Linked DNA regions of Homo sapiens: all the other regions are linked to region 3. Evidence: fine-mapped expression QTL. A gene starts in region 3. Each other region holds a variant in brackets. All regions are shown on one strand. Distances are from middle to middle. Region 1 overlaps OTOF (otoferlin). Region 2 overlaps HADHB (hydroxyacyl-CoA dehydrogenase trifunctional multienzyme complex subunit beta). Region 3 holds the start of HADHB (hydroxyacyl-CoA dehydrogenase trifunctional multienzyme complex subunit beta).

Evidence for each region. PIP is the estimated chance that this variant, and not a neighbour inherited with it, causes the effect.
Region 1: its variant is fine-mapped to the expression of HADHB in monocytes after R848 (Quach 2016, PIP 0.95).
Region 2: its variant is fine-mapped to the expression of HADHB in blood mononuclear cells (TOPMed, PIP 0.96).

Annotation. Positions count from the first base shown.
Region 1 is chr2:26,489,036-26,497,217 of GRCh38, reverse strand. It overlaps OTOF (otoferlin), which reads left to right. Exons shown (of 47, transcript NM_194248.3): 9 at 2,145-2,276; 10 at 7,478-7,540; 11 at 7,923-8,007. Among named protein-coding and RNA genes, the nearest start is that of OTOF, 66 kb to the left of the region's middle. RefSeq lists an enhancer at 3,423-3,572 and a silencer at 7,170-7,412. The variant T/A (reference allele first, on the strand shown) is at 3,489.
Region 2 is chr2:26,276,414-26,284,595 of GRCh38, reverse strand. It overlaps HADHB (hydroxyacyl-CoA dehydrogenase trifunctional multienzyme complex subunit beta), which reads right to left. Exons shown (of 16, transcript NM_000183.3): 7 at 7,436-7,523; 8 at 5,795-5,982; 9 at 5,281-5,461; 10 at 4,481-4,602; 11 at 1,672-1,751; 12 at 1,545-1,592; 13 at 392-479. Among named protein-coding and RNA genes, the nearest start is that of HADHB, 36 kb to the right of the region's middle. The variant T/C (reference allele first, on the strand shown) is at 4,026.
Region 3 is chr2:26,241,197-26,249,378 of GRCh38, reverse strand. It overlaps HADHB (hydroxyacyl-CoA dehydrogenase trifunctional multienzyme complex subunit beta), which reads right to left and starts at 4,440. Exons shown (of 16, transcript NM_000183.3): 1 at 4,389-4,440. It overlaps HADHA (hydroxyacyl-CoA dehydrogenase trifunctional multienzyme complex subunit alpha), which reads left to right and starts at 4,747. Exons shown (of 20, transcript NM_000182.5): 1 at 4,747-4,849. The coding sequence starts at 4,783. RefSeq lists enhancers at 2,685-3,412, 4,271-4,370, 4,225-4,905, 6,391-6,931.

The sequences.
Region 1 (8,182 bases), 250 kb before region 3:
GTCTGGAGAATAGCTTGAACCCGGGAGGTGGAGGTTGCAGTGAGCCTAGATCGTGCCACTGCACTCCAGCCGGGGCAACAGAGTGAGACTCTGTCTCAAAAAAAAAAAAAAAAAAAAAAAAAAAAAAAGAAGAATGTACAGAGGTCCATGCTTATTCTAGCTGGGGAAAGGCTTTTCTTGTTAAAACACACGTTTGAGAGAGGCAAGTGAATCAATCATTCTAAGTATCATGCACAAGCTCCCTACTTGAGAGATCAACCGCTTAGCTGAAGGGAGATTCTGTTGGGGTCACTCACATTTTGTAGAGCTTTCTGCTGTTTAGGATGCATTTTGACACACATGATCTCATTTAACCTGCATACAACCTTACAGGTAGCTGGTGTCTCTGCTTGTAACTGAAAAACACAAGGCTATGTGGTCATTTGCCCTCACACCTGGCAACATGTCAGGTCTGGGGTTCAATCCCAAGTTCAGCAACCCCCAGTACATGCCTCTGTCTATCTTAACATGGCCACCCTGACAGGAACTGACACCTCCAAATCCAAATGAGACCTGATGGCTTAAAATGAGGGTTCGGGAAAAGTAGTAGTGATGTCAAAAATTACTGGTGCTCTGGCTCTCTCTCTCTCTGTCTCTCTCTCTGTCCTTATATCTTTTTAGCTTAAAAAGCCAATAATTGGCTGGTCACAGTGGCTCGTGCCTGCATTCCCAGCACTTTGGGAGGCCAAGGCAGGCAGATCACCTGAGGTCAGGAGTTCAAGACCAGCCTGGCCAACATGGTAAAACCCAATCTCTACTAAAAAAAAAATACAAAAATTAGCCGGGCGGGGTGGCATATGCTTGTAATCCCAGCTACTTGGGAGGCTGGGGCAGAAGAATCGCTTGAACCCAGGAGGTGGAGGCTGCAGTGAGCTGAGATCATGCCACTGCACTCCAGGCCTGAGTGACAGAGAGAGACTCAGTGTGAAAAAAAAAAAAAAGCCATTAATCATTTGTGGTAAGCTCCACAAGGAAGAATTTGTTGCAATCCCACCTGTGCCTGGCTCCAGCAGGTTTCCAGGAAACATTTGTTGCATGAATGAACAACTGAAATAGGGCTTCCCAGGATATAAGTAAGATTGCAGAGCTGGACGCCACATAAAGGACACAGCAGAGTGCACACAACATACAATCAGTAGGCTGAAAAAGGCGGCTCAGGCAGGCACCAAAGCCGCACTGGCCATACAAACAAAGAAATTCAGCAAACAATGTGGAAAGGGGGGGGAGCCAAATTCCAGAAATGCAAAGACGTATCAGAGGCCTGCAGGCTTACATGAGAATTCCTGGAGCAGGAAATTAAATGCAAGTTAATGAAGACTTTGAAAGCTTTATTCCTGAGTGCATGAAACCTGTGACATGGGTTTGGCAGCTCTTTCTGAAGCAGAGCCATCGACGCTGGGGAAGAACGCAGGGCACTTGGCATCACCTAGGAGCTTTAAAAATACAGATTCCAGCCTGGGCACGGTGGCTCATGCCTGTAATTCCAGCACTTTGGGAGGCCGAGGCAGACAGATCACTTGAGGCCGGGAGTTTGAGAACAGCCTGGCCAACATGGCAAAACCCCATCTGTATAAAAAAGACAAAAATTAGCCCGGTGTGGTAGTGCATGCCTGTAATCCCAGCTACTCAGGAGGCTGAGGCAGAAGAATCACTTGAACCCAGGAGGCAGAGGGTTGCAGTGAGCCGAGATCATGCCACTGCACTCCAGCCTGGGCAACAGAGTAAGACTCCATCAAAAAAATAAAAATACAGATGCCTGAGCTGCATGTCCAGGATTGGATTGGATTGGTCTGGAGGTGGCCTGGGCATCAGTGTTTTTAATGCCTCTCCCTCCCTTCGGCCCAGCAAGTTAAGTCTAGTGAACACTGACTTAGAGGTTAGCCAACTCATACTCCTCTATAAATGAAGACACTTGAGGCATAGAAGGAGAAAGAGCCAGGATCACCCAGCAGATGAGAGGCAGTGGTCAGAATGGAGCCCAGGAGGCCAGTGCTGGCTCCCGGGCCCTCCCTCTGACCCTGCTGCCCCAGCCCCTGGACCCCTGCGGGACCAGGCTCCTAGGCTCAGGCAGCTTTCCTTCTGGCTCCCCCTTCTCCTGCCTGCAGGTCAGCATCACGGTGATCGAGGCCCGGCAGCTGGTGGGCTTGAACATGGACCCTGTGGTGTGCGTGGAGGTGGGTGACGACAAGAAGTACACATCCATGAAGGAGTCCACTAACTGCCCCTATTACAACGAGGTCAGTGGCCCTGTGGGGAAAGGAGCCTCTGTAAATATGGCAGGAGGGTGGCCCCAGCCCTCCCCAGGAGAAATAGGAGTGGCTGGAAGTCAAGGAGCACACAGGGCTACCAGCAGGGGTGATCCACCCTGTTACAACCCCCAGGACACTGACAAACAGAGCCACATCTTCTGAATCCTCTGAACCCCCCAGTCTAGAGCACAGGCCGACACTGGTCTTTGAAGCGTACACCACCCGGGTGCTCCTGGGCAGACCCCAGCAGTGCCTGTGAAAGAACCCCCCCCCACCCCACTCCCCAAGAGGCCTGGTTCCCACTGTTTCCCAGGCCAGAGCCCAAGGACAGGGCTGCCTCATTCCAACCCATGGTGGCACTGGCACCATTAGTAAGCACTTTCTACCAGCCAGGCATGCTCCTAAATGCTTCTGAACTGGACCATCCAAAGTTGTCACTATCAATTCCCTTTTACACAAGGGGACAGTGAGACTTCTGAAGGCAGACCTTGTCCAACCTCACAGTGCCAGCATCGCCCTTGGCGTGCTAGTGGGGTTCTGCCCTCTTGGCTCGGCTCCTTCATGGTTGCCTAAACTTCTGCGGGCTTCTCTCCAGAGCACTGGCCTTGATTTTAGGGTGTGAAAGAGAAAACATTTGGTACCCACTCCTATTCTTTCCAGCCATTTGAGGCCACATCAAGGGTGAGGGACCTCAGAGACCTTCTACTTTAATCTCCCCATCTTACAGAGGAGGATACTGAGGCCTCCATATGGAAGGGCCTTGCCCACAATCTCAGAGAGTGTTGCTGATAGAGCAGGGGCCAGGCTGCCCACCCAGCTTCCAGCCCAGGGCTCTGGCCACCATCACAAATATGGCACCTTGGTTCCCAGGCTCCAGATGGGACCCCATCATAATCAGCTCTGGGGAGGGATGTGAGAAATAGAGAAATACACTCACTCATCAAAACCCAAAGAATGACTTAGAGGCATGAAGAACAGCGAAAGTGAGACTTTTAATAACGGTCTTGCAAGATGGAGTGTCTGGTAGGCAGGCACCCCTGGGGCAGTCACAACAGGAATTTATCTCCTAGTGTGCAAGTCCCTCCCCCACTTCCCCATTGGTTGAGCACTATGGGGTTACAATCTTCCCTGACGTCGCCTAAGTTTCATTTTCCCCCTTACAAGGTTATACCCCGCTCCCCTTCGATTTCCCCACTTAAG[T/A]TTCGATTTCCCAATAACAAAACTTTCTTCCCTTTCATGGGCTGACCCCTCCTCTACATTCTGTTCGCTTATTGTGTCCTTCTAGGTGCATGAGCCGTGTGGTTTGTTGCATTCGCAGGTTGGATGCCAGTACTTAGACTTATCCTGCCTTGAAAATGGACCATTGAAAATGTTTTCTCACCAGGATGCCCAGGCCTTTCCCAGATGCCTGATCACACATCAGACTAACCCAGAAGCCACAGGCCTGGGCCCTGCCATCCCTTTCCTGGAGGGTTCCCCAGTCTGTTTCTCCTGGTGGCTCCAGGCAGTGAGGGGTGCCAGGCTGTCCCAAGTAAGGCAGCTGAGTCCCGTACCCTGAGGTGGGTGAGGGCTGAGGTGCCCCCTGTAGCTTGGGGGAGGGCATTTCTCAGGCAGCTCTGAGAGTCCTCAGACTGTGCACCTGCAGGAAGAAAACCCAGGCCCACCTCTGCCCTTCAGCCCAGGCCTGGCCGAACTCTCCTTTGTGACCACAAATTGACTCTGCTCTCCCAGCTGCTTTCCCACAGGCCCCCCGAGCTGGACAACCTGCTCAGGACCCCTCCAGCCCCAAGGACATTCAGGATTGACATCTCTGGCCTTACGTTAGGACACATCCTGACTGGACAAGTCTCCGCCTAGATAAGCATCTATGTCCCCAAGACAGGCATGGAGACAGGTCCCTGTGGCCCCGGTGGTTACTTGATAGCAGTGAAGCCACTTCTGCTAACTTAAGGGATCTCCCTCCACCAGGCCCACACACCTTGGCTTTCATTCAAATTACTTCCTCTTTCCCAAGGGCACAGAGCTGCTCTCCCTACTCTGTGGCTCCCCCAGAAAACTCCTACTCACCCGGCAGGGCCCAGCTCAAATGTTCTTGCTACTGAGCAGCCTTGCCTGCTCTGTCTGGGTCAGAGGTCAGCACTCCCCTTTCTCTGCAGTGTTAATGTCCTGGAGTTGAGGTTGGTCCTCCGTGTCTCTGTCCTGCTGGTGGACTGGAGGCTCCCAGTCTCCTGCCTCGCTATTTGTTCAGAGCCAGGCATGTACTCGGAGGGGTTCAGTAACACTCACCCAAAGGAAGACACAAACATCCACTGAGCATCTGCCGCACACCAGACAGTGGCACGTGGGGCAACATGGAGGCTGCCGAGATGAAGGAGGCACAGTTTCCGCCCTGCGCAGGTCCCCTCCTTGTTTCAGCCTAGAATCTTTCTAAATTCCCTATTTACTTCCTCTAAGACTGACTATTCATTCTGCTCATCTTTGGACAATCTTAAATGTGTTTCTGATCACATTTTTGTTCTTTTTCACAAACCCAAATAGCTCTGATTTTGTTTCTGTTTCCTCTAAACTAGGGTTTCTCAAACTCAGCACTATGGTATCTTGGACTGGATAATTGTGGTGGGATCGTCCTGTGCTGTGTAGGATGTGAGCAGCATCCCTGGCCTCTACCCAGTAGATGCCAATAGCAACTCCCCTTAGTTACAGCTACCAAGTTTCCAGACATGCCAAATGTCCCCTGAAATCGCCCTCAGTTGAGACCACCATTCTAAACTATCTTACTATGATTCCTTCCAGCCCCAAATCAGCCTTTCCAGCCCCAAAGCTTTGTTTCCCTTTTCTTCTCTTTCTATGCCACATTCCTTTTCAATGAAGGACATCCTCCTCGTCGTGGGAATGTATTATTTCTGACTAATTATCTGAGCTGGTAGGAACCTTCCTTTGGCTCCATTAAAACAACAGAGGGAGGTGGGAACAATCAACATGACTTAGGTATCTAAGCTATTACAAAAGGAAAATATGCTCAGGAAATAACAGGAATTTGATTGCAGACAGCTCAGAGAGTTCGGGATTCTGGCTCTAGCTCAGCTAGCTCGCTCCCCTGGGGCTGGCACATCTGCGGGCACCTGGCCTGATCACCCTGCCTGGCCCTGAGCCTGCCTGTGTGCAGGGAAGCTCAAAACCTTTGCCCTTCCGGAACAAGCTGGCCATTCACAAACCAGACTAAGGCTCCTTTCCTGTGTGTCCTGTGTGTGCATCTGGCCCCGCCCTGGGCATCTTGGGAGCGCCACCATCCTTCCTCCTGCTGAAAATCCACCTCTCCCCTTTGCCTTGGATCCTTCTCTTTCTACAGCTCAAAGAACCTGGCATTGCACAGCCCAACTCTGTCTTTGTTTTTCTTCCAGCCCCTTCTTCCTTGCCTATAAGGTGTTCTACTCCAGCATATGCTAAGTACAACCATGAAGACCCATGTGTGCTCAAGGACAGGAACTAGGAGTCTGTCACCTCTCTCTGGGCCTTTCCTCATTCCCACACACTTCTCCAGTGACCTCCTTTTTCCCTCCACCCCTCCACAGTCAGACCACTTGGGTTGTCCTCACTTCCTCCCCCCAGTCACCCCTCAATCTCTGCAGGGTTTCTGCCTCCAGATGTCATTGACACTGCTCTCCTCAAGGTCACCAAGGACATTGCTGTTCCTGAGTATAATGTCCATGTCATCCTCCTCTCCCTTGATCACCCAGTTTCTTTCATCCCGCTGCCTGCTGCTCCTCTTGGGGGCCCCTCACGCCACTCTCCTGCTTCCCCTGTCTCTCCAGCTCCATCTCCCCGGCCTAACTTCTTGGCTGAAAGGCTGTGTCTTCTTGGAGCCCTGACCTGGGCCTGCTTCCCCTCCCATGCTCTCCCCAGGTATCTCCTCCATCTCCAAGGTGTCAGTTACCATCTTGTGCTGACGATTCCCAAATCCATATCCCCACCCGCCTCCCCAGAGCTTCAGAACTCTGGCCAGCACACCCTGGGCCTGTTAGTGTCATGCACAGCTGTCGCTGCTTGCTATGTGCTTACCGTGGTGCACACCTGTGTTAAAGACTTGACCAGGGTGTCTCATTGCAACTTCACAACCACACCTTGAAGCCCCCCAAGTGAATGGCACCCCTGGAGCAGTTCAGCACGACAGCCCTGGATCATATCTCCACATTCATAGGATAATAGGTAAACTGAGGCTCAGGCAAGAAAGTGAGTGATCTAGCAGTAACAGCCAGGTGGGGCTGGCTCTGAAGCTGGCTTTACCCTCAGTGCTCAAGGGCCAGCCCCCAGCAGCCAGGAGCACGTTCTCTTCGGACATTTACCCCAAGCACATTGGAAATATTTCTCCCTTCTCCCCCACCACAGTTCACCAAAGCAGCAGCCCCTCTACTCACTGCCCCACACCCTCATCCTCAGCACCTGCACACCCAGGCCAGGGGAAGAGATGGGGACTGCAAATGTGCATGGCAGCCCACAGCACCAAAGGACAGTGCACACCCATGGCATTTCACATCGACTGCCAACTAAGTGCTTGGCACACCATGGTTCATCTGCTCTGAGGCTTGCGTTATTTTACAGTTTCACCTCTCTGAATTTGGGATGTGTCTCCTAGGCAGCCTTGTGGCTTCATGGCAATGTCCATGTGGCTTATTAAACCGTAGTATATCTTACAGCCAGTAGCCACTTTAGATTTGGTAAAATATGTTACACTGTCTCATCAGAGCCTCATAACAAGACTCTGAGGTGGGTGTCATTATCCCCATTTCACAGCTCAAAAAACTGAGGTTCAGAGAATGTGTTGCTCAAGGCCACACAGTTAAGAAGGTGCAGAGCGGGGACTAGAACCCAGGTCTGCTTGCTCCCTGGCCCTGTGCCTCTTCTGAGCACAGTACAAGGGCATGGGCTGTCCCACCTACTGTTCCAAGTTCCTTTCCCACCCCACACTAGCCAGCACCAGCCCCACCTAGGGGATGGGGCTCTGCTTCCTACCACCCACCACCAGGGTCAATCAGGATCAGATGAGTTGCCTCTGCTGCTCCTCTGAACTTTGGGGCTCAGGGCAAATGTCTGGGGTGCAGACAGGCCCTGCGAGGAGGGAGGGGCCCAACACTGCCTGGGCTGTTGCTGCTGCCCTCAGTGACAGCAGGCCTGGATCCTTCCCCCTCCAGTACTTCGTCTTCGACTTCCATGTCTCTCCGGATGTCATGTTTGACAAGATCATCAAGATTTCGGTGAGTGGGGAGCAGCCCCTGGCCGGCAGGGCCACTCCCTCAAACTGCACCTTTGTGCAGACTTGAGAGGGGCCCCCTCTGTCTAGACCCATGATAAAGAGGCAGCGCCGTGCCTGGACACACGGCTGGGCAAGTAGGGACAGGCTGGATTCTGGCCCCCACCCACCCCTTTCATTGGATGCCTCTGAATAGTGCATTCGCCCGTAAACAGTGGCCAGCAAGAAACTGGCGTGGGCAGGAGGAGCTGATGCTGAGCCTCAGTGAGCCACCCCACTCTGCCAACGCCCTCCCACTTCACCACAAAGCTCGGGTCCCACCACTGCCCCATGGAAAGCCTCACCCTTGCTGGGCCTGACGGGTGGGCTGTGGTTCTGCCTGAAAGGTGATTCACTCCAAGAACCTGCTGCGCAGTGGCACCCTGGTGGGCTCCTTCAAAATGGACGTGGGAACCGTGTACTCGCAGCCAGGTGAGTACCTGCGCATGGCCAGTCAGTCGAGGTGTGCATGGCTCAGGGAGCGTGGTGCACGGGGCCCTTCCCACTGTGGCAGTTCCTGGGAAAAGGCTGGCAAGGACCACAGTCTGGCGACTGTTAGTACACACAGCCATCTGGCCTGCGGAGAAGTGGCGCGCACAGTCTGTAC
Region 2 (8,182 bases), 35 kb before region 3:
AGCTACTCGGGAGGCTGAGACAAGAAAATTGCTTGAACCTGGAAGGCGGAGGTTGCAGTGAGCCGAGATCGTGCCACTACACTCCAGCTGGGGCAACAGAGCAAGACTCTGTCTCCAAAAAAAAAAAAAAAAGTAAAGTTGAACAAATCTTTGTATCAGTTTTCAATGGCAATTTCCTAAAGAAGCAATTTGGTATGTTCTCCAACACTGTATGTGTGGCCCTTGCTTCCCTCCCCTCGGGCCCCTCCCAGCAGTGTGAATCAGTACTTAAAATATGCAGGTCCACTCCTGCTCTACTCACATCATAAACCATGCCTTGCTCTCTCCCACAAATATGGATGACATTTTTTATGACTATAGTCCCTTCATATGTGTCTTTCAAATTACTTACCGAGAAAGCTTCATGAAATTCAAAAGCATCAATATCATTCATGGTCAATCCTGCCTTTTCTAGAACTTTTGGAGTAGCATATGTTGGTCTGCAAAGAAAAAATAAGTAATATCTTAAAACTTTAATTTTTAAACTAAGAGCTCCTTCATATTCCCCAAACTGAGTTTTACATAGGTACTCTAATGTCTTTTCACTCATTCTTTGATTTTTCTGTACTGATTAATGAAATGTTAAAGATAAAATAGTGAAACTGTACAGACATGCCCTCTACTCTTATGTTGCAGAGTCAGAGAAATTGATAATAAATAAACAGTGAGGGATAAGGACAAGCTAATAACATGAAGAACTGGAAGAACAGAGTTCAAAGAGCAAGGCAAGGGAAAGGGCTTGACTGATGTGAACGTCACAGTGGAGGCTAGAGGCTACAGCCTTGTGAGGGAACGGAACAGAGTCTAAACATGGGGAGGCTTTTATAAAAGGCTATATTAGGAAGATTGTGTAGCAGGGTGTGTAGCCATATGAAAAAATGCATATGCTATCTTAATGAAAAAGAATATAAGTTGTGTGTGTCCATATATATATGTAAAACTTATAGGAAAAAAATGGAAAATAATCCAAAACTGTAACATGATATACCAATGGAAAGGATTACTACTATTTTATTTATTTATTTATTTTTTTGAGATGGAGTCTCGCTCTGTCGCCCAGGCTGGAGTGCAGTGGCGTGATCTTGGCTCACTGCAAGCTCTGCCTCTCGGGTTCATGCCATTCTCTTGCCAAAACCTCCCGAGTAGCTGGGACTACAGGCGCCCGCCACCACGCCTGGCTAATTTTTTGTATTTTTAGTAGAGATAGGGCTTCACCGTGTTAGCCAGGATGGTCTCAATCTCCTGACCTCGTGGTCTGCCCACCTCGGCCTCCCAAAGTGCTGGGATTACAGGCGTGAGCCACCGTGCCCGGCCAGATTACTATTATTTTTTTTAAAAAAACCACCACATAAACCAATTATGAACTCAGGGCTTAATATACTCTCAAACCAGTGTAATAAACAAATAAATAATAAACCAGTGTTAATCATTTATTAACCAGTATAATAAAACATAGGCAATCAAATACTTGTGATTATAGTCCAAGGATACAAACTGCTACCTACCCAAGTAATAGTTGATCTTTTGGATCCTGAGACACATACATAAAATCCCTAGGTAAAAAAATAGAGAGGTGAGCTTTGGTAATAAAATAAAGAAATCAGAGATGATTTGTTTGAACATTTACTTTACCTCAAATATGCCTTCGGCTTATAACCCATGGCCAGAGCCTTTTCCTCCGCCATGATTAACATTGCAGATGCACCATCAGTCTGAAATGTTAACCAGCACAATGTTAAAATTCTTCAGCCTGTCTGGAGGTCTTTCTCCAGCCATCTTATATATCTGTACCTGAATCTATTAACTCATTAGACTTATACAGTGATTCTATATAACAACACTTACTTCACTGTATCCATCATTAAATCATAATTCAAACATACACACGCTGACTCATTTTTGGAGGATGAGGGTAGAGAAGGCTGTTCAAAAGTATCATAATAATCAAAATGAATCAACAGAAGAGGTAACTTTAGAAATAAATGCTCATGGCCAAGCGTGGTGGCTCATGCCTGTATGCCTGTAATCCCAGCACTTTGGGAGGCTGAGGCGGGCAGATCATGAGGCAGGTGATTGAGACCATCCTGGCTAACGCGGTGAAACCCCATCTCTACTAAAAATAGAAAAACTTAGCCAGGTGTGGTGGCACACACCTGTAGTCCCAGCTACTTGGGAGGCTGAGGCTGAGGCAGGAGAATTGCTTGAACCTGGGAGGCGGAGGTTGCAGTGAGCTGAGATCGTGCCACTGCATTCCAGCCTGGGTGACAAAGCCAGACTCTGTCTCAAAAAAAAAAAAAAAAAAAAAGAAAGAACTGCTCATAATAAACACTAAACACTTATTTAAGCCAAAGTTTTTAGCTTGTGGCACAAAATATGAACCAAAATAAACATATCTCTTATTTATTTATTTTTACATTTTCTGGGCTCTCAGCTGCTTTCTGCCCGTGGCTTACAGGTCATTTTATTCTACTTATATATTCTGTAACGAGCAAACCAATGGGAGAACCAGCTGAGGACATTAGAACCACAATCTTCCCTCTTTGGATACACCCCATACATTTCTTCCCAAATGACAACCGAGAAGCTGGAGGACAAAGAAGTACTACTGAAAAAACGTCCTTTACCATACTTCAAAGAAGAAAAGCTCCCCCAAAAACTTCAGAATTCCAAAGAAAAGGAAACTATTCTTCATAATTTGTAAAATCAAAATAAGTTCTACCACATTCTGTCGTATTTTTATAACTCGGCAACCCTGAAGAGACTGTGTAGCCACCAATAGGGTGTCCATAAAGTCTGGAGACATAGGTGACCATATGGAATAAATGGTTTACAGACATTACATTAATAACAGGTTCAATGTGCCATTGTGCAAAATTGCAATGAATGTGGGGCACTAATGCAGTCCCCAAAATCCATGTATTGTGATGTGTCACCTCTGATGATTTGTGTCTCTGATTCTCACTAAATAAACCTGGACCTTTAGCATACCCTGGAAATAATCAAAAGGATTCAGATCTGGCAAGTGTAGTCCATGCCACATGGCTCTATCATCCAATTCGGTTTTGCAAATGACCAACCTAACCAGCTCTTCACCACCTGGGCTTAACAGGGTGGTGTTCCATCCTGTTGGAACTACTCCAGATTCCACTCCCCTAGCCTATCAAGAGCAGGCATTAATTAGTCATTTACCATGGGCAAATATGTCAAACATCTGCGTATGTTTTCAAGACTTTATGGCCAGGTAGGAGAGTTACATTGTAAGAGAAACTCTGACCAGATGGCCTATATCCAGAAGACTATACCCAAGGTGGTAAGAGAAGAGAAATCACATCTTACAAGCAGCAGCAGAATCAATAAAGATGTTTAATTGAGGAGTCAGAAAAGCATGGAAGGATATGAAGCTACATGTTGATAAGTTAAAAAAAAAACACAAAACAAACAGTGGTAGATTTGTTCCATGATGCTTACAGGAAAATAATATTGGGGTCAGTGTAAAGCAGTTTTCTAACAATCAGGGCTGGAAGAGGTATCCTGTTACTCTTTCTGCCTGCTTTTCCTTGTCTTCTGCGACTTCCCAGTTCATACCTTATGCTCCAACCTAACTTTTCCCCAAAGAACCCCTTGCTCTCATACTTCCTTGATTTTGCATTTGCTATTCCCTTTGTCCAAAATGCCTTTTTTTTTTTTTTTTTTTTTTTTTTTTGAGATGGGAGTTTCGCTCTTGTGCAGGCTGGAGTGCAATGGTGCGATCTTGGCTCACCGCAACCTCCACGCCTCCAGGGTTCAAGCAATTCTCTTGCCTCAGCCTCCCGAGTAGCCGGGATTAACAGGCATGTGCCACCACATCTGGCTAATTTTGTATTTTTAGTAGAGACGGGGTTTCTCCATGTTGCTCAGGCTGGTCTCGAACTCCTGACCTCAGGTGATCTGCCTGCCTCAACCTCCCAAAGTGCTGGGATTACAGGCGTGAGCCACCGCACCCGGCC[T/C]GAAATGCCTTTTAAAATCCTTCCTGAGTTGGCTTTTACTCTTCCTTCAAGATTTGCTGCTCAAGTGTTACCTCTTCCAAGAAGACTCTCTGACTGTCCCCCCATCTGGGTCAGGGGTTCGACCTAAGCCTTACAGCCATCACAGCATCTCACTATATTGCAATTGTCTATTCTTTTCATTTCCAGGGCCCACCATAAGCAATAGAAGTTTTTGACTGGTTAAGTGCCTGAAAGGAAGAGCTTTTGTGGCAGAATGGTGGCTGGATTAGGTGACTTCTCGGGCCTTAAAACCGTGATTCTATTTTTTTTTTAATGACTCCACTTTCACATTAAAATGAATAACTATATTTTTAACCCTCTATTCATAACACACACAAAAAGTTATATTAGGCTTTTCTACAGAGAGTACAGAAATAGAAAAGTCACTACTAAATACAAATAACATTGACAGTTACCAAGAAAGAAGAATTTGCAGCTGTCACTGTGCCGTAGGGCTTGATGAATGCAGGTTTTAGTTTGGCCATCTGCTCCAGTGAGGAAGGACGGATGCCATTATCTTTGGTAACTGTATCTTTTCCTATTAAAAAAATGAATTTTTTTAACTCTATGGAACCACAAGCCTTATATATCTTCTCCACAGAAATATGCTTTAAAAATTACAAAAACAAATGAAATATAAACCTTACCTATTCACTAGAAGGAAAGTGTTTTATAATTATCATATTATCAAATTTTAAACTAAAGTCTTAAAAGACAATTGGGAAATCATCTAAATGCTTTACTAAAAATAGGACACCCTATTTTCTTAAGACATTCATTCACAGTTGGCTATTCTATACAGAAGTCAGACGATTCAGGAATTTTAAAAACAGGCATGTATGTAAGAACTAAAATATATCAGCAAGATCTAAAAGGAGACTCTGTTTTTCTTTTTTTTTTTTTTAATTAGAGATGAAGTCTCACGCTGTTGACCAGGCTGGTCTTGAACTCCTGGCCTCAAGCGATCCTCCTGCCTCAGCCTCCCAAAGTGCTGAGATTAGTGCTCAGATCTTAAAAGGACACTCTTATAGAAACATTAAAAAATGTTAACCTATTGTTACAACATAAATCAAAATTTGCATCCATATTTAAGAATAAAGGCTGAATACTTTGGAAACAGAACCAACATACTTATGGAAAAATCACTCGGGATGTTTTTGAGTTTTAGGAGCAATTCAGAACTCCCTAATAAGTGTCATGAAGCATTTCATTTCACCTGGTACTTTGAAGGGTACCACATCAGAAAGGAGTCCTTCATCCTGTGCCTTCTTGGCTAGACTGTGAGAGCGCAGTGCATATTCATCCTGTTCCAGCCGAGAAACAGCAAAGGCAGCGGCCAGTCGGTCTGCAGAGTGGCCCATGGTCTCACTGGTGGAGAACTCAGAAACCGCAGGGAGCTGGGAAAGGAGATATCCAAGGAGCAGGTACACTGTTAACCGGTGTTATGCTAACACCTAGGATTGTTCTGTGTTATTTGGAAAAGTTAAAATCTATTTGTCTACCATTAATCAATCAAGTCCAAGACAAGCAGAGGATCTCTAAAGAGGATCTCTAAAGAGGGCTCACAAATTAAAGTTTTCTAACCACTATCTTTTTTTTCCATCTTGAGCAAGTAATTAACCCTTTCCTGTAACTACAGAATCTACACCTATTACAGCATAGCAGAGTCCACACTGCCATACCTAATTCTAAATCTCTGCAGTGGGATGCCCTGCAAACACAAGCCTTACCTCAGGTGCTAGGAAATTAAATCGGAATTTAGAGATTAAAGACAGTCGCTGGCCCATAGATTTGGCCTTATTGAGATCAAGCATCAGTTTTCTCATTTTCCTTGAGTGACGAATAGGGACATCGGACATCAACTCAACACCACCTGCCACGATCACATCACACTGGCCAGAAGCAATCAAGCCAACACCTACAGGGCACAGGTTATACTTCATGAATATCTTTTACAGAAAATAACATACCATTCCAATTTAAGCTTCTTGATTAAAAAGCTGAATGACAGTTATCAGCTTTGTACAACATCTGTAATTAAAGTTTTCAACTTTTCAGAAGAATTAAGGTAATTTTCTTAAATGACTAAAAACACATTCAACACGTTAGAGAAAAACAAGTTTCATTCCTGCCATATGGACGTCAACTTCTAGGAATATCCATTGGACCAACTCTTGAACAAATCATATTCCAAACCAGAACATCTTGCATATTTATATGCTCCCAGCTTTAGTTTTAATAAAGATTTTTTATCCTATAAAGAGAATGTTAACTTCTGCTGCAAAGCAGAGAAATTACAGCTGTTGAAACGTAAGGCAGGCCCCCTCTCTCCTTATGGCCACTGGCCAGTATTCTGTTTCTCTAACCAGGAGTTGGTCACATGCTGCCTAGAGTGGCGAACGCCCCCAGTCACGGGCATCATTCCCCGCCACACATGAGGTGGGGTGCCCACCTGGGCCTTGATGTTACTAGATGAGCACATGATTACTAAATCTTTCAGGCTTCCTTGCCTCCTCACACTAAGAGCTGATGCTACAAAATATCCCACAGTTTTGCTAAAGTTTGTTAGTGGGGTTTTCAGTGATTTATAAAAATGACAAGGATGTAAGGAGAAAGTGAAGGAAAGAGCTGTGCCATCTAAAGCAATGATTTACAAGTATGGTAGTGGTGAAGGAAGGAAGACCATATCTTTGTGGGAAAATATCATATCTGAAGCACCTAGGTTGAAAGCCTGGCAGGTTGTAAACTATTTACTCATGCCTCAGATGCTGAAGTACCTTCCTAGAGATACACTCCTCCAGTTGATAATCCCTGCTGCAGCCAGCCACATTATTCACAGAGGAACCACGCCAATGGTAATGTTCCTCAGGTATGGAGAGCAAAAAAAGAGGTTAACTACGGTTAGAACCCCCAAATTTTAAACCTGACCTTACTTTTTAAAAAACACAAGTATAGAGATCTGTGCTAATCTTTTACTTCTGTTAAGAGTACTTTTTGGGATGAGCATGGTGGCTCACGCCTGTAATCCCAGCACTTTGGAGGCTGAGGTAGAAGGATCACTTGAGGCCAGAGGTTTAAGACCAGCCTGGGCAACATGGCGAGATCCCGTCTCCACAAAAAATTTAAAAATTAGCTGGGTGTGGTGGAGCACCTGTAGACCCAGCTACTTGGGATCCTAAGGCAGGATGATCTCTTGAGCTCAAGAGTTTGAGCCTGCAGTGAGCTATGATGGTACCACTGCACTCCAGCCTGAGTGACAGAGTGAGGTTCTGTGTTAAAAAAAAAAAAAAAAAAAAAAGTACATTTTTATAATCAAGTAAAAGACAAAGGAGAATAATTAACATGTACTGTCTGTTTCCATTTAAACATACCTGTGGTCATGGCTTGGTTGGCAGAGATACAAGCCATGGTGACAGTGTGAGCAGGAGTCTTGTCAGAGAAGCCAGCTCCAAGGGCAGCCTTTAGGAAATAGAGTGAATGAAATGATCACTATAAGGGAAGGGCATCATGTAAATGATGCTTTGAGCACTAATCTTCATAGTCATCTGGAAACGGTTTCAGTTTAACATTCTCCAGAGCAATATTTAAAATCAAATGAAGTCCATCACAGAAATGGTTCACTAATATTTAATCTTGCCATTAATTGACAGGTATATGCAAAATTCCTGCTGGCTGGTTTCTAGTGCAGACACGAGGCTATGATACTCTCCTAACTCACCTAATTTCTTATCGATGTTTTGCTCAGGGCCTTCAAGAATATCAATATATAATTTGATTTTAACTTGTTTAATGTTCAAATATACTTAAAAGAACCTATTAAAGACAGTTGCTGGAATGATGATGAAATATATTATGGGGTGGAGTCCTCACTATCTGTGTTATCAGGTCTCATGATCAGTCACAAAGCTTAGCAGCAAAGCAAAAGTGATTAAACATGAAAATGATTTCTAAAGAACTGACCCTTCATAAACAGAGTTCCCACTCAAGACCCTGTCTGCTTTACACCTATCTTTCTGCTCACTGCCAGCTGGTTTCTCTTACTGACCGTCTGATACTTCAGATAGCACACTGCAGACCCAATGCAAAGATGAACTGGAAAACTTGCCAACTATACAGAA
Region 3 (8,182 bases):
CCACCATACCAGGCTAATTTTTTTTATTTTAGTAGAGACAGGATTTCACCGTGTTGATCAGGCTGGTCTCGAACTCCTGAGCCTCCCAAAGTGCTAGGATTACAGGCGTGAGCCACCACGCCCGGACTAATAAATCCCCTTTAAGAAGCCAATTTGATTTGAATTTTCTGTTATTTGCAACTGAAAGACTCCTTCCTGATACATGACCAAAAGCAAGAATGAGAAAACAAGCCATTCACAGAAGAAATTAAAATGCCAAATAAACAAAATGTATAATGTTCAACCTCACTAACAAAAAGTTGTGATTTTCTTTTTTTTTTTGAGACAAAGTCTCACTCTTGTCCCCCAGGTTGGAGTGCAATGGCGCGATCTCGGCTCACTGCAACCTCCACCTCCTGGGTTCAAGCGATTCTCCTGCCTCAGCCTCCCGAGTAGCTGAGACTCCAGGCACGTGCCACCACGCCTGTCTAATTTTTGTATTTTTAGCAGAGATGGGGTTTCACCATGTTGGCCAGGCTGGTCTTGAACTCCTGACCTCAGGTGATCCGCCCGCCTCTGCCTCCCAAAGTGCTGGGATTACAGGCATGAGCCACTGCGCCCAGCCTTTTTGTTGTTGTTGTTGTTGTTTTTTAAATCAAAGCAAGGTATCATTTTGTGGTTTTCAGATTGGCAAACATTGAAAATATGGTTAATATATAATTCTAGTAAGAATGCATCTAACTAAATAGGCACTTCCATACACTAGAAGACATGTAAAATGCTAAGGCCTTTTGGGATGACAATTTTGTAGTTATAGATCAGAATTTAAAATGTGAATTTTTGAGTCCAATAATGCCTTTTATTGGTCTCTAACCTATAGAAATATTCAAAATGTATGTATAGCATATATAGGTCTCTAGCGTAAAATACTCAAGGTGGGCCAGGGGTGGTGGCTTACGCCACTGAACTCCAGCCTAGGAGACAGAACGAGACTCCGTCTCAAAAAAAAAAAAAGAAATACTCAAGGTGTTCACTATAGCACTGTTTATATTTGTGGAAAACCGTAACTAATCTAAATGCACATCAGTAGGAAACAGTTAAGTAAGTTATAGTATAAACACACCATGGAATACTGTTTGGCAGTTTGGAAAAGAAAATGAAACAAAATGATGTACATGTATATATACTGACATGGAAAAATGTCCATAATATATATTAAATGAAAAAGCAAGCTACAGAACAATGTGTATTAGAAATTAGAATAATAGATTAGAATAACTGGAAAATAGGGAAATGGGTAAGTAAACCCTACTACAACAACCATTTTGTGACAGAAAGAGAGAAAGAGAAAAGAAAGTCCCTGAAGCTATGAGTCTAGACATGGAAGGATAAAGAAAGGCTTTTATTTAATATTCTTCTGTTCTCTTTAATTTTTTTAAAATAAGCATTTTACTTATGCATAATTCTAGTTTTATTTAAAATCTATATATACTGTTGTTCCTCAGTATCCAAGGGGGATTGGTTCCAGAACCCCCCTCAGATACCAAACCTCAAGGATGCTCAAGTCCTTTACATAAAATGGCATAGTATTTATTTGCAAAGAACCTACACACATCCTCATGCATACTCTAAATCATCTCTAGACTACTTACAATACCGAATGCAATGTAAATCTATGTAAATAGTCGTTATGCTGTATCGTTTAGGGAATAATGATGAGAAAAAAAGTCTGTACATGTTCAGGACAAATGAAACCACTGTAGGCCTAACTACATTTTCACTCAGACATTGGTTGAATCTGAGGATGTAGAACTCACAGATACCAAGGGCCGACTGTACATCAATATCTTATATAAATATATACAAATATACAAATGCATTTTAAAAAGTCCAGAAAAATACACATCAAAATGTTAAAAGTAGTTATCTCCGGGTGGTGGAATTACAGATTTTCTTTAGACTTTTCTGTAGTTTCTGAATAAAAAATTACATGGAATATGTATTCCTTCAATAGTTAATAAAAAATAGAGATTTCAAAAGTAAGAGGGACTAAGCAAATTATCCTATAGCAGAGCTGACCTTTCTGTCATTTGCTAAACTTCAGAAAACAGAAATTTTGGTAAAAATATTCAAAGCATGGAAACTCCAGGGTAGGGTAGGGTAGGATCGAGTTGGTTAGGGTAAGCCTGAGTAAGGTGTGAACTATGGAAAGATACACGAAGCTGCAGGCACCTGGGAGCAAGGGAAAGGAAGAAGAGTCTAGGCAAGTAATGAAAACAAAAGCAAGATGGGGTGGCTCTAACAGCTCATTATTACAACTTTGAAACACAACGTAATGGTTAAGAGAACTAAAGCCAGACTATGTCCAAATCCTGATTCACCCTAGCTGTATGACTTTAAGCCAGTTACTTAACCACATAGGACGCGCACGCGCACACACACACACGCACGCACACCCACGTGCACACACCACTTAAAACAGTGCTTGATACACAGTTAGGGGTATACCTGTGTTTGCTATTACCAGTAGAGATGGTGATACAAATGTACTGTTTCCCTCTATATAAACCATTGGACTAAAGTGCTTAGGGATCAAAGAAACATTATAACATTTCTGCCCTGATGGAGCTTAGTTTTGTAGAGAAAGCACAGGGAGCAAAAAAATGGAGCCAAATGAGTGATCTAAATCAGGGATTGGCAAACTACAACACACGGGCCTCTAGCTAAAAATAGTTTTTCACATTTTTAAAGAGTTGTAAGGTCGGGCGTGGTGGCTCACACTTGTAATCCCAGCACTTTGGGGGGCAGAGGTGGGCGAATCACCTAAGGTCAGGAGTTCGGGACCAGGCTGGCTAACATGGTGAAACCCCGTCTCTACTAAAAATACAAAAAATTAGCCCGGCGTGGTGGTGTGCGCTTGTAATCCCAGCTACTCGGGAGCCTGAGGCAGGAGAATCACTTGAACCCGGGAGGAGGCTGCAGTGAGCCAAGATCGCGCCACTGCACTCCAGCCTGGACAACAAGAGCAAAACTGTCTCAAAAAAAAAAAAAAGTTGTAAACAAAACAAAACAAAAGAAACAATATATAACAGAGACCAAAGTGATCCTGCAAATCCTGAACTATTTACTGTCTGGACCTTTAACAACAACAACAAAATTTACCACTTCTGACCTAAATAATAAGTGTTACACGCAGTTAGGTGTTGAAGAAAGCATTACATGGGCAGGAGGCAGGCTCTGAACTGTAAAAACCTTGTAAGATTATCAAGAATCCTTTTTGCAATTTATTCAGAAGTGGTCAGGTCATCCAGTTTCTGCTTAAAGTGCTCACATGATGAGCACTCACTATGCAACTTGAGCTTTAAACAGAAACCTCTCTACTCTGTCTCTATACTCATTTCAGTCTTAACTTCGATGCCCCTTGTTTCCTGTCCTGCAGAGCTGTCAGTCTGGCGAGTAGTGAGACTCAGACTTATGTCTGAATGCTAGGTCTGTCACAGACTAGAAAATGTATATATTCTGAGCTTCCCAAACTTCATCTAGAAAATGCAAATGATAATAATTTGGGGAATGTGAGGACTAAACAAAAAGGTATGAAGGTGACCAGAGCACAGCAGGCTCTCAATGTGACTTCCTTTTGAAATCAATCACTTTATTCCAGGACTCCAGCCCATCATTCCAGCACAAAAACAGCTACCATGCAATGAAGAACTCTTCACTAGGAGTTAGTAGACTTAGGCTCCAGTCTTATTTCTACTACATATGGCCATGGGTAAAATCACTCTCTCTGATTCGTAGGCAGTTTCTTCACCGCTTAAGTGAGCTGAGGTGTGAACGACCAGATAGATAATCATCCAGATCGGAAAACCCCCGAGAGCGCAGGATTATCTGGATAACGGAGCCGGATGGAGGATTGTCTCCGTTCCTCCCACACTCAAGCCCCGAAAGGTCACCTGACCTAGTCTTATTCTTTACAGCAGAAATCGGGCAAACCCATGGCGCCGTCCACAATCTCTATAGCCGCCGACCTGGGTACAGGGGAAGCAGGCGAAACAACACACACTTCTACGCAGACCAGGGTTACATTAAGGCCGACGCCCACACACGCCCACACACACCCACACACACACACACACCCCCACACCCCCAGACTTCGTTAACTTGTGATGATAAATTAGGGCGCAGGTGACACTACTGTCCCGAACTTCAGCTGGAACGCTAGTCCAAGTCACTGTCCTAACTGCAGCTAGCACTGCCGACCTTGTCCGAGGAGTTTCCTTCCGCTCCCTCAACTCCCACTTTCCCAGGGAGGGGAGGGGGCCGGGGGCACCGGCGACAGTTGCGGGGAAGGAAGTGGAATCTCGCCTTTGGGAAAGCCCGGGCGGAGAGCTGAGGGCTCGCCGTCTCACCTTGGCTGACGTCCGCGAGGACTCCCTCTCGGAGCAAGGTTCAGGTCCAAGTACCAAGGCTCTGCGGGACCAAGGGGCGGGTCCTGCCCAGAAAGGGCCCCTCACCCCGCGGGCGGTCAGGGCCGTTCTTGAGGGCTGCCCTCCGGCCGCCTGACTGGAAAACCAGGCACTCCACCCCCTCCTCTCCGGGCCCCCGTCCTCCCCCGGAGAATACGACCTTTCGGCCATGTTAGCCAGGAGCGAGGGGCAGGGCTAAGGGGCCGGCGGCCACTCGGCATCTGGGTTTTAGTCAGGCAGTGCTCCAGGCGCCTGGCTGCCAGGCTACGGGAGAAAAGTCCTCCGCTCGGCCGCACCCGTTAGAGGCGCTCTCCACTGCTGTCCTCTTCAGCTCAAGATGGTGGCCTGCCGGGCGATTGGCATCCTCAGCCGCTTTTCTGCCTTCAGGATCCTCCGCTCCCGAGGTGAGGCCTGGCCGAGGGCATCCCAGACCTCCGGGCAGAACTCCTGCCGGGACTGGGGTGGCCCCGGAGCCGCGTCTCCCTTTCGCTGCCGCCTGCCCCAGCCCGGAGACGCAGCCCTCTGTGGGGATACTGCCCTGGGACCCGGTTTCCCGTGACCTTCTGAAGAGACTGTCACTTCCCCTCTCACGACTCCTGCGGCGATTTCAGGCTTCCTAACTCCCCAACTTTCTGAGTCTGGTGCCACTCGTTCTGTCACCTTTCCGCGGGTCTCTTGCGTCGCACTTCTGGGCTCACGCCCCTCATATTTTCTTGATCCGGAGTTCCAGGAGAATCGGGATCCATTCTGTCGCATCTTTGTGGCTCCACAGCACCTTGCCCCGCAACAAGAGCTGTCTTAAAAACAGCACCTTACCCCGCAACAAGCGCTGTCTTGTATGGGATTAATCAGCCTTGCAGATCACTGCCCCTCCCTGCTCCGTTCCCTCAAAACCATTTTTGTGCTTACTACCCCAATCAAGTAGGGAGCTCAACTCTTGCAGTTTCAGTAATGTCAGTGTGAACGTATAGTATTTTGAATTTCAGCGGGAAGTTCTGCAACTTACTGGAAGACACACTTTAAAAATACGCTAATACCTCTACCTTAAGCAATAAAATGTTAGATCGTTCTGAGAACGATTTGTAATCTGATGATTCCCAGTCAGCCTGTATTAGCTAGTGTTTTTCCTTTTCAAACTGGCAGTGAAAGGGTTAAAGTGGGTGGTTGTAGGAAACGTTGCATTTTCTTTCCATCCCAAATCTGTAAAGTCAAAAGTGGACAACGTTTTATTGCATGTTGTGCTTAATAAGTTACTTAACTAGAAATTTTAACTTTTAATTTAATTTGTAATATGAATTACCTCTCTTCCCTCTTCCGGAACCGCTGAAGTAGTATGCTTTTTTTAGACAAGTAGCTGAAATCCCTTACTGTAAGGGGATTTTTTTAATGATTGAATATTTTTCTGCTCCCTTTTTTCAACAGCTGTTTTTAGTCTCCACAAAACTGTAGCATGTATTTGCCAATTATAACATAAGCACATTATAGAACATTGAAATGCTGTAAGGATTGAGGAAAGAGATGAAAAAAAAACGAATCACCCATTGTCTTACTACTCATATGCTTACCTACGGTTAGCCTTCGGTTATGTTTCCTTACAGGTTTGGTGGTTTTTTTCCCCTATTTTCACAACACTTTTGAAAAGTAACGTGTAATTTTTATCTTACCCCTGCATTGGTTTGAAGGTATTTCTTATGGATCGGCAGCTGATGTCACTCGGAAGTGGTAGCCAGGGCACGTGGTTCTAGTCACTAGCTGTGTTACTTTGGACAAATGCCTTAAACTAAATGGGCTTTATTTTCCTCATCTGCAAAATGAATGATTGAGATGATGGATTTCCTTTGCATGAGAAGTAGCATGACAGAGCAATTAATAAACATTGTTTGGGCCGGGTGCGGTGGCTCACGCCTGTAATCCCAGCACTTTGGGAGGCCCAGGCGGGCGGATCACGAGGTCGGGAGATCGAGACCATCCTGGCTAACACGGTGAAACCCCGTCTCTACTAAAAATACAAGAAATTAGCCGGACGTGTTGGTGGGCGCCTGTAGTCCCAGCTACTCGGGAGGCTGAGGCAGGAGAATGGCGTGAGCCCGGGAGGCGGAGCTTGCAGTGAGCCGAGATCGCGCCACAGCACTCCAGCCTGGTCCTCCGTCTCAAAAACAAACAAACAAACAAAAAAAACATTGTTTGGAGTCTGACTTCTGGGTTTGGACCTGGCTCTGCCTTTTACCCTCTGATGACCTTGGGCAATTAATTTCTGTGTTTGTTTTCTCATTTGTAAAATGGGGAATAATACCACCTTGTGTGATGAAAAGGAGTTATTTTAGATATCAAGCAGTTTTTCATGGAGTAAGCACTCAGTAAATATTATTAACTCCAGCCTGGAAGAAATACGATTGTATATATCTGAGAGTTTTTAAAAGTAATTTGTACATCTTATGTGTGTAATAAAAAGCTACCAACCTAATTTTTCTGTTTTCTGTATAGAAATATATAGACACATAAATATATACTTTGCATTGTGTTTTCACCAGTAAGAAAGTATCATTCGTTGTAGTTACTGATCCCTTAATAGCAATTTATAAATTTTGAAAAAAAGTCTGGAAAGTGAATTTAAAATGACCTGCACCCTTATATTACTATTTAGACTCAATAGATCCTTCACAGTAAAAGTCTGTGCAAGGCTTTGCCAAACATTTAATGAGATTATGACCTTTGCTGGTGGATGATAAAATTCTCTTGAAAGGGGCCAGGCACGGTGGCTCATGCCTATAATCCCAGTATATTGGGAGGCCAAGGCGGGCAGATCACTTGAGGTCTAGCCTGGCCCACATGGTGAAACCCCATCTCTACCAAAAAATACCAGAATTGGCCAGGTGTGGTGGCACACGTCTGTAATCCCAACTACTCGGGAGGCTGAGGTGGGAGAATCGCTTGAACCCAGGAGGTGGAGGTTGCAGTGAGCCAAGATCACACCTGGAGGACAGAATGAGACCATATCTCAAAAAAAAAAAAATTATCTTGAAGGAGACTTGTAATTCTTGAAATTTTAAAGCATTCCTTCTCTACAAGTGCTATAATTCTGAATGTGAATATCAAATGAAAATCACTTCTTGACCAGAGTATGTTGTCTAATTCCCACTCCTATCCTAAATCTAAATTCCTAATTAGGTATTTAGTAGTAAATAGGTATTAGTAGTAAAATAATTTCACAGGAGATGAATTTAGAGGCAAATACCTTAATAGATGGTTTTTTTGTTTGTTTGTTTTTTCGGTTTTTTTTTTGGAGACGGAGTCTCACTGTGTCACCCAGCCTGGAGTGCAATGGTGCGCTCTTGGCTCACTGCAACCTCCGCCTCCCGGGTTCAAGTGATTCTCCTGTCTCAGCCTCCAGAGTAGCTGGGATTACAGGCTCCTGCCACCACGCCCAGCTAACTTTTTTTTTGTTTTTTTTTTTTTGTTGTTGTTGTTGTATTTTTAGTAGAGACGGGGTTTCGCCATGTCAGCCAGGCTGGTCTCTAACTCCCGACCTCAGGTGATCCAGCCACCTCAGCCTCCCAAAGTGCTGGGATTACAGGCGTGAGCCACCGCGCCCGGCCATAGATTGTGTATTTTTAAATTTGATTCTCACTTCCTTAATCTCGTCGCTTCTCCCAGTGTTGAATCTTGAGAAAAGCTGTTGATTATTACAACCAAAGTAATGTTTTCAAATTTGAAATTTATGTTAGCATAATCCAGCT